Linked DNA regions of Homo sapiens: region 2 is linked to region 1. Evidence: fine-mapped expression QTL. A gene starts in region 1. The other region holds a variant in brackets. All regions are shown on one strand. Distances are from middle to middle.

Region 1 (5,392 bases):
GGCCATCCTTGTTGACTTAAAGAACGACACTAAGGCAAAATTAATACAGAAAGTTTATTTGGGCCAAGGTTGAGGGCTGCAGCCCAGAAACACTTCTGTGGCAAGTAACCTGGAGAACAAGAAGAGACCCAAGTTTTTAAGGTAAAGAAAGGGAGGAATCAGGAGTGGAGACAAATTCTAAAGTTATTTATCAGCAAGTCTCACTGGTTTCAGAAACAACATTGATCAGTGATTGGTTATGCATTATTTAACTATAGGATATGTGGTTTAGGGGATTGATAGGTTAATTCATGGTTAGTTGCCACAAGTCAGTCCAGAGCCCCCATAGCACGTAGATTCAAGAGATGATTACCTAGCTCAAGAAAGAGTGAGATGTGACTGCGGCCACATTTCAATCTTGCTGGGCCTGATAATTTAAAGGGGGCTACTTATTCCTCAGATAAAAAGTTTATTTTCTTTCTCATTCTAAAAGATACGTTGCTGAAATTTATAGAGTTAAAAAACACCTCATTTCACAGAAACTAACAATGTAAGTGTAGCAAGTGTAGGGTCCTGAATTTATTTTGCAAAATTACAATTAGTGAATGCTTCTTAAAACTCTTTTAAACAATCAGCAGGAGACCAATAGCAAATAGTCATAGACTCAGCTCCCTCAATCTCAACAACGTATAGGACAACTATAAAGAGAATTCACAGTTCTGTGTGTTCAGCACATAGTAGGTCCTTAGTAATTGTCACTGTCCTTTGCCCATTCCCTGTGTTAACCATGGAGAGCCCTCACGCCCTGAGAAAATGTTTTTATTAATGTCACATTGTTTGAGAGCTGCACATAGTGCAACTCTAACAAGTTCATGTTACCTTTTTTTACATTTTTAGTTCACTCTTGGTTTTCATTTTTTTTTTTTTTGAGACAGAGTCTCACTGTGTCGCCCAGGCTGGAGTGCAGTGGCCTGATCTTGGCTCACTGCAAGCTCCGCCTCCCGGGTTCACGCCCTTCTCCTGCCTCAGCCTCCCCAGTAGCTGGGACTACAGGCGCCCACCACCACGCCCGGCTAATTTTTATTTTTGTATTTTCAGTAGAGACCGGGTTTCACTGTGTTAGCCAGGATGGTCTCGATCTCCTGACCTCGTGATCTGCCCACCTCGGCCTCCCAAAGTGCTGGGATTACAGGCATGAGCCACCTGGGTGCCCAGCCTTCTTTTTCAATTTGTTATGGAACTGTCTATTCCCTGTGCAGCAGAGAGTTTCCTGATGATAGGAAAACATTTCCAAAAAAGCTTTCTAGGATAAAGCCGACCCAAATCAACTCAATTCAGTTATATTACTATGACTCACTTTGCCCGAAGTTCTTCAGTTTATATAGTGGTATAAAAAGCAGTTTTATGGCCAGGCGCAGTGGCTCAGGTCTGTAAGCCCAGCACTTTGGGAGGCCAAGGCGGGCGGATCACGAGGTCAGGAGTTCGGGACCAGCCTGACCAATATGGTGACACCCCATCTCTACTAAAAACACAAAAATTAGCCAGGCGTGGTGGCATGCGCCTGTGATCCCATCCACTCGGGAGGCTGAGGCAGAAGAATCACTTGAACCTGGGAGGCAGAAGTTGCAGTGAGCTGAGATCGTGACCCTGCACTCCAGCCTGGGTGACATAGTGAGACTCCATCTCAAAAAAAAAAAAAAAAAGCAGCAGCTTTACAGTGACATCATAATCTGCAAACATTCCATATAATTATTTAAAACATGTAAGCATCAAACTATGTTCTGATAGTATATCAGGCTATCAATAACATTATATCACTGATCAATAGGCTCTGCATTAAACCAAAACTCTTTCTGAAGTGAGAATCTCTTCTTTATCTGCCAAAATTCATGAGGAAGAAACACCAGGTAACACTTTATAATATTCATTCCTTACAGCTCCCACAGCTAGTCATTGTCTTTATGGTGAAATCAGAAAACAACTTCACCAGCTCTTGTGAAATATTATCCTGTTTGCATATGCAGTGTTTAGATAAAGTCTCTTCCTTTCCTCTTACCTTGTTTCAGTGAGAACAGAATAAGGCATTTTACACTGAAGTCTCTCAGGTTCCACCATTGGAAGACAGAAGGATGAATGGCTATATTTTACACACAGAACCTTAAGTCACCAACCCTTAGATATTCCTCTTTCTCCTCTAATTGATCTCCAGTGTCCAAGTCCACGGGGGCCAAAACCTTGGTCACTTCACTTGACTTTGCTGATTTGGGGATGAACTCAAATTCTGAACTTAAAGCAAATCAACCAACCCAATCAACTTTGCTGCATTCAGCTGCTACCCAGAATCAGACTAAAGAGGGGTGTATTTAATATTCCAGTACATGATTTCAGAGCTATAGAAGATGTTAAATTATGTTTATGGAAATTCTGTCATCATGTAAGTTAGAGAATTCCGGATTAAAAAAGTGCAGGAACCACTTACAAGTACTCGACTCAGTAATAGCAGAACTAGTCCCAAGGATAGTTTCCTGTCCACTCTTTAGTGAGTTTCCAGGGGGAATGATTGATGATTGTGACTAAATTAAATTATACTAGGATAAAACACTTCCTTCTACTTGTTAGGTGGGGGTAGATAATTGATACATGACAATATATATCCATTTAGCTATTCTACTAAAGTGAAAGCTGACTCTTAGAGACAATGTGATAAAATGAGCATTTAGAGTCAGAGAGAATACTCTAGTCTGACAGCTATGCCACTAATTAGGAAGCTGAGTTGGGAAAATTACTTAAGATTTCAGCCTGTTACTAATCTTTACAACTGGACTAATTTGAGGGACATTCTAATAATTAAATAGAATGATGTATGCCAAATGTTTACATAGTGTCTGTTGCAGAGGAAGGGCTCAATCAACTGTAGCATCTCTTAACCTCTTTAATCCATACATTGGTTAACTAGAAAAGAACACTTTATTTGGGGTTATATTGTTCTTTTTTTATCTTTGAAGGCACTAACTGCTATATTTTATGTCAGAAATTAGAAATAATGCTATAAAATTAATATCCATGTTCTTTGTTTTTTTCCTTTAATTTTTTAGAATTATTATGATTATCTAATGGTTGCATATATTCATGAGGTACATGTGATGTTTCAATACAGGCATTCAATGTGTAATGAGCAAATAAGGGTATTTGGGGTACCTATTACCTCAAGCATTTATTAATTTTTTCTGTTAGAAATGTTCCAATTCCACTTTTAGTTATTTTGAAATATACAATAAATTATTGTTAACTATAGTCATCCTGTTGTGCTACTACATTCTAAGTCTTATTCATCCTAACTGTATTTTTGAGCCCATTAATCATCTCCAGTTTATTCCCCACTCTACTCTACTCTGCCGAGCCTCTGGTAACAGTCATTCTACTATATTTATTATTTTTTAATTTTAGCTCCCACATATGAGCAAGAATGCTCAAAGTTTGTCTTTCTGTGCCTGGCTTATTTCATGTAATATAATGGATAATGAAAATTTACTAGATACATAGAACACTATTCAACCATAAAAAAAAATAAGAGTGAATTCCTTTCATTTGCAACAACATGGATGGAACCGGAACTAAAGTAATGCTGGATTCTTGAATTATCTTGGCACCCTTTGTCCTAGGAGATGATGAGATGAGACTCAATAAATACTGGATGCAAATACGATGAAGTACGAAACTGGACAAAGCCATTCTAGTGCTTTAAATAAGAAGAGTGGACCAGTTATGATCACATACAGATTTTTTATTGCTCTTGTTAGTCTTTGGTAACTTCTATGTTTTTCCCTGCTGCAATGTGGTGCTGCTTGCATTTAACTCAGTGCAAAACTCAAACCCAGGTAAAACTCATTCTCAGCCTGTTACCGTCCCTGTAAGATCCATACACAGCAATGAAACGTGACTTGAGGAAAGTCCAATATATGATGATGCATCTCACCTCAAATTTATGACAATACATCTCAGATTTATGAATACAAATCTCATGGCCCTTTTGCCACGTCACAGTATGTTCTTGTTCTCTGCAGACTTTCTCTGAAAAGTAGTGATCCATGCCTCCTCCTGCTTTCCCCAAACCTTACCCCACTTCCACATCTCTTAGACTCCTCTGGGAAAAATAAACAAACCTGTTAATAAAACAATCAGATTTCAAACTTTTCTTCCATGAACTGTATCAGCCTCCCTCATTCTGTACCATATACTCAGCCTTGTTTCCTGTGACAGCGTATGAAATGACCGTGCTCCTGCCTAAACCCACTCTCTACTTTTGCACAAGGCTCAGCCCCTCTCAGCATCTCCTTTTTACATTTCCATTTCCATCTTCATCTGCACAGAAACATAAATTCTTTAGAGGAAAATATGGCTGTCAAAGATTCAATCATACTCCTTGGAGGCTCTGACCAAAGATTGAGCATCTTTTTCTTTCTGCAGAGATGGAAGTTACTCATTAACAAGTTGGAGCGGTGATGGATATTATAGACAAGGGGTTTCAGTAGGTGCGATCAATTAAAAAAAATCCAGGATGTAATGAATTACTCTGTGATGGTGTCTCCATGAAGCCTGGGAGCTTATAATGAGTTTAGAGATTCTTTACAATTTCTTAGTGACAATAAAGTTTTGGTTTAACCAGTGTAACCCTTCTAAGAAGACTGTGAGGCAGGTATAATTTGTGAAAGTCTGTTTTATAGACCAGAATGTGGTGTACTTTGATGAGTGTGTATTCTAATGTTGTTGAATGGAGTAGTCCACAGATGTGAAATAGATCCAGTTGGTTGATGGTGCTGTTCAGTTATATTCTTACTGTTTTCCTGCCTCTGGATGTATCAGTTACTAACAGAGGGGTGCTGAATATCCAACTTTAATTGCAGATTTATGTATTTCTCTTTTGTTGTCCTATATGTTTTTGCCTCATCTATTTTGACATTATGTTGTTAGGTACATACACATTAAGTATTAATATGTATTATGTAGGAAGTCTTAGCCAGAGCAATTAGGCAAGAGTGAAAAATGAAAAGCATTTAAACAGGAAGGAAGGAAGTCAACATATCTCTCTTTATAGATGATACCATTCTATATCTGGAAAACCCCATAGTCTCTGTCCAAAAGCTCCCTGATTTGATAAATAACTTCAGCAAAGTTTCAGCATACAAAATCAATGTACAAAAGTCAGTGTCATTTCTATACACCAATAGCAGCCAAGGTAAGAGCCAAATCAGGAGCTCAATCCTATTCACTATGGCCATGAAAAGAATACAGCTAATGACGGTGGTGAAAGATCTCTACAATGAGAAATATAAAATGCTGATCAAAGGAATTGGAGAGACACCAACAAATAGAAAAACTTTCCATGTTCATGGATAGGAAGAATCAATATTCT
Region 2 (5,392 bases), 150 kb after region 1:
ACTTCCTGTCCACTCTTTCCATCCTTCTCAGGACTGGCCTCACGGGCATATGCACAGGGTTCACACTCAAAGGGCTCCATGCATGGTTTCATGCTCTTCTGTTGTCATTGAAATATCTAATAATTTCATCTCTGAGTATGAATGTGATAGAGGAGCTAGACAGGCTGGCAGTGTTAGCACGCAGTTTGGGTCCACTGGTAGTGACTACACAAGTGGGCTCAGGCAACAACCACATGGGGCAATTGGCCTGGTCTTCTCATGCGCGCACGCGCGCACACACACACACACACACAAACACACACACATCTTGTAATACTTCACAGCACCACAGGACCCAAGCAGTGTCTGGGGTATGCCTGGGCTCATATTGATGGTGATGACAGAAGCAGCAGTGCAGGTGGCAGTAGGGTCCAAGTGTCCCTAGCTTGGAAGAGAGGAGGTGCTTGCCCTGGCAGCAGCAAGTGACTGCTGATGGGATGCCTATTTTCCCTCTGTCCCAGAGCCCACGCCTGTTGTATTCATTGAATATCAGAAAAGAAAAAGCCAGGAAGATTAGCAGTAAACATTGTTAGCAAACTATTACAAAATAAAAATATACACTGCTCATTGCAGCAAAACACAAAAAGGACTTACTCTGATTCATAAGACAAGTTCAAAATGTGTGTTTTAACTGCAACAACATTGCAAAACAAATATCCACAGGCTTAGAAATAGAAATGATGTTAAAGAGCATTTCAAGAATTTTAACTATGTAATACTTTACTGTTAACTTTAGTCATAGAAGAGAACAATAGAATTTATTTCTACAAAATACTGATGAAAGGAAATGAAGAAGAATACAAACAAATCGAAAGACATCCAATGCTTGTGGATTGGAAGAATTATTATTATTTAAATGACCAAACCTCAGATTCAATGCAATGTCTGTCAAAATACCAATGACATCTGCACATAAATAGTAAAAACAATTCTAAGATTTGTATGAACTATGAAAGACCCCAAACAGCCAAATCAATCCTGAAAAAAAGAGCAAAGCTGGAAGCATAACAGTAGCAAACTTCAAACTATACTACAAAGATGTAGTAATCAAAACAGAATAGTACTGGCATAAAAACAGATGCATAGAACAATGACACAGAACAGAGAATTCAGCAATAAATCCACGTATCTCTAGCTAACTGATTTAATTTTTTATTTTTAATCACTATGGATACATAATAGTAATATGTAATTATAGAGTGTATGTGATGTTTTGAAAAACACGTACAATGTGTAATGATCAAATCAGGGTAATTGGGATAACCAGCACCCCAAATATGTATCATTTCTCTCTGTTGGGAACATTCCAATTCCAAACTTTCAGTTATTTTTTAATATATACAATATATTCTACAATGAATTATTGTTTGCTACAGTCACTCTGTTGTGCTACCACATACTGGCTCTTATTCGTGCTATCTATATTTTTACAACCATTAACCGTCCCCACTTTATCCCCCCTCCCCTATACCCTTCCGATCCTCTGGTGACCACCAGTCTATTATCTATTTCTATTAGCTCAATTTTTAAAATTTTTAGGTCCTAGGTAGGAGTGAGAACATGCAAAATCTGTCTTTCTGTGCCTGACATAGTTAAATGATATCTGACAACAATGCCAAGAACATTTATTGGGAAACTGACAGTCTCTTCAATATAAGGTGCTTGTAAAACTGGATATCCATATGCAGAAAAATGAAACTAAACTCCCAATTCTTACACTATACCAAAATCAACATAAAATGGGTTAAAGACCTAAGTGTAATCATTCTTGATCACTGATGGCATCTTCCAATACTTGTTGTTGATCTAAAATTTACCTGATGTTAAATCATTTCCCTGGGATTCATTCCACTACAGAAAGCATAAACTTGTCACAGGCCATCCAGAGTGGTATCAGGACTTAAGAACCACTGATGAGCCTTCTGCTAAATCTCAGTAATAATAAGTCCCCCTAAATTGAAAGAAAGAGTAACTGGTACGTTAAGTGTCTAAGATAAGAAACAGAAAACATCTTATGGCTTTCAATTAGATCCACCAAGTCAAGAGATTTTTGGTTTTGTTTTAGACATAACCAAAAAAAAATTTTAATTACTGGAAAATAAATTGACAATAATAAAATTGTTATGCTGAGTGCCAACTTCAGTTAGGCCATTTTCATTTTCATTTCTGCATGACCAAAAAAAAAATTCTTATTGACAACATATTAGCAAAAATATGTACTTTCAAAATTTTTGGAAAAAGGCCATCAAGAAAAAAGGTTTCTTAGAATTATATATATATTTGTAAAACAATTTTGTCCATATATCAGTGATTTTCTTCTTCCGTTGGTTAGTTTTAGTCCTGCACTCTAGGAAGGACATAATATTTTAATTACTATACACTGCTGAATGGATGTGTATCTGAGTCCTGAGACCTTAGGCAGAAAGTGTTTCTACATTTTCACAGAGCAGATTCTCTGACTCACTCGTGTCAGGGCCCCCATCACCTCCTTGTTCCTCAGGCTATAGATGATGGGGTTGAGCATTGGGGTGAGGATGGTGTAGAAGACAGCCAGAACCTTGTCCTCTGTTGGAGATCGCAGGGATCTTGGACGTAGATAAGTGTAGACAAAAGGTGCATAGTAGAAAGTTACTACAGTGAGGTGGGTGCTGCAGGTCAAATAGGCTTTCTTCCTCCCTTCTGCAGATTTCATGTGGTAGACAGCAAAGAGAACCTGGCCATAGGAACATGAAATACCAATGAAGGGAAACACGAGAAA[G/A]ATGGTGGCACTCAAAAACACTGTGCCCTCATAGACCCAGGTGTCCATGCAGGCCAGAGTCACCATTGCTGGGACATCACAGAAGAAATGATTGATGGCCCTGGATCGGCAATAAGGAATATGGAGTACATATACAGTGTGAGCACAAGCATTGATCGAGCCTATGATCCAAGACCCTGTTATCATCAGCACACACACTCTTTTGCTCATGCGGATGAGATAGTGGAGAGGAAAGCAAATAGCAATGTAACGATCATAGGCCATAGATGCCAAAAGTAGTGCTTCTGCACCTCCTAATGCCAAGAAGAAGAAACTCTGAATCCCACACCCAGTGAAGGAGATAGACTTGTTTCCATGCAGAAAATCAGATGCCATCTTAGGAACAATGGTGGAGATGTAATTTAGGTCAATGAGGGAGAGCTGACTCAGTAGGAAATACATGGGTGTGTGGAGATGGGTGTCCAAGAAGATGAGAAGAATCATGGACAGGTTTCCAATTAGAGCCATCAGGAAAATGAAAACAATGAGAATGAAGAAGAAAAGGTCAATTCTTGATGGTGGAAACAGCCCCAATAAGATGAAATCAGTTGATGTTTGATTGTAATTTTCCATGGAGCATTCCTACAATCCATTCGGAAGGGAGACACAAGAGTAATTTACGTACAGTAATTCGCCCTTATCTGCAGGGGATGCATTCCAAGCCCCCCCAGTGGATGTTTGAAACTGCAGTTGATACTGAACCCTAAATACACTATTATTTTTGTCTATACATACTTCTGATAAAGTTTAATTAATAAATTAGACAAGTAAGAGATTAACAAGAGTAACTGATAATAAAATAGAACAATTATACAGTATACTATAAATATGTGAATATGATCTCTATCTTTCTCAAAATCTTTTATTGTACTGTACTCAGACTTCTTTGTTCTGATTTTTACCTATTTTGAAAAAAGAAATCTTATTTTCTTACCCAGAGTTTCACATTTGATGAGATCAACATTTGTTACTAGTTTTTTTCTGAGAAATATGTAAATTTATAAGAAAGATACCTCTATTACAACTTCAATAGAATATGAATGGTTTACTGCCTGACGCAAACTCAGATACATTCAAAGTCAAATATTATACTGAATACCTATGCATAGAAAGTCACTATAAATGCATACATTACAGATTTATATTTGAATAAATTAGTCTTACCTTTATAGAATGATCTGTTATATTTCCACACTTATTCTTTTTCTTTTTTTTTAAGTGACAGGGTCTCTCTCTGTTACCCAGGCTGGAGTGCAGTGGCAAGATCATAGCTCACTGCAGCCTTGAACTTCTGGGCTCAAGTGATCCTCCTGCCTCAGCCTCCTGAGTAGCTGCGACTACAGCCACGTGCCACAATGCCTAGTTAACTTTATACTTTTGTAGACATGAAGTGTCACTGTGTTTCTCAGGCTGGTTTTGAACCCTCGGCCTCAGTAATCCTCCTGTCTCGGCCTTGCAAAGTGCTGTGATTGCAGGCAACAGCTCCCCACCCAACCCATGTTTATTCTGTCAGATTTACTTCTAAAACTGCAGCAGCTTGTCTCTCATTTTGAGAAACTTGAATGATCTTTGTGCAATAATGCCAAGTCAAACTTCTTTTGTCAGTTATAATTTGGTCCTCCTATTTAGAAACCTAGAATAAATCCTTATTGCTATGTCCCTTTTACGGAAAGTCATATTAATCCACACTCTTGATTTTCAATATTCATCATCATCCATTCTCTTTGGCCTCCTCGCCTAATTTCAGAATACTCTATTTAAAGCAGACCCCTTACCAAATATGTTACAGATTTTGTCTTTTGCTTCTCTAGTGATTAGATAACATTACACATTGCTTTATGGATCCTTCAAAAGAATGCACTTGGAGGAGCATGCAATTGCCTAAATAAAAAAAAGAAACTAAAATTCTGACAGACTTCTAGGTAGAGGTGTGTTAGAAATTCCACTCCAGATGTAAGACATCAGTAAACAGCTTTGCACAGTAAGCCTAAAAGAACCAGAGTTTTTAGGCTTAAATATTAGTCTAGAGCCAAAGATCACCAGAATTTGGAGCAAGTATAACAACATGTACGAGGAAGATTCCCAGTGTGCAAACACACACAAATATGCACAATCACACACAGTCATATGCATAAATACACTGACTTTAAAATGATTAAAATATGCAGAAAGAATAGTTTTTTGTGATCAAAATTCCTTTCTTCAGAGATGTATGATCTGTTATGAAATCCATAAAATAAATATCATTTGCTATATGAAAGGATGTGACACGTAACATTAAAGAACTTTTGAAAACTAAAATTGTATTAATTGATAAAAATATTAAGCGGAAGTTTCAAAAGACAAAGTAAGAAAACTCTATTTGAAGGTAAACAAAAGCAATAACCACATGAAAAGACTGCTATTTAGGGAAGATAGAAAAATGAGGGGATTCATACAGGAGGACCAATATGTGCTTAAGGACATTCCTAGAAAGGGATATAGCAAAATAATAGTGAAGTTAGTATTCTTAAAAAAATTTCTCTCAACTGAAATATATTAACTATCATGTTCAAA

What was found. PIP is the estimated chance that this variant, and not a neighbour inherited with it, causes the effect.
Region 2: its variant is the best candidate, but not a certain one, in a credible set for the expression of OR2L13 in prefrontal cortex (CommonMind, PIP 0.62).

What each region holds. Positions count from the first base shown.
Region 1 is chr1:248,091,898-248,097,289 of GRCh38, reverse strand. OR2L13 (olfactory receptor family 2 subfamily L member 13) reads right to left here and starts at 2,106. Exons shown (of 3, transcript NM_001395936.1): 1 at 2,036-2,106. It overlaps LOC105373275 (a long non-coding RNA gene), which reads left to right and starts at 1,748. Exons shown (of 4, transcript XR_949369.3): 1 at 1,748-1,886.
Region 2 is chr1:247,946,875-247,952,266 of GRCh38, reverse strand. It overlaps OR2L8 (olfactory receptor family 2 subfamily L member 8), which reads right to left and starts at 3,409. Exons shown (of 1, transcript NM_001001963.1): 1 at 2,471-3,409. The coding sequence starts at 3,409. The coding sequence ends at 2,471. It also overlaps a transcript of OR2L13 not described here. The variant G/A (reference allele first, on the strand shown) is at 2,798.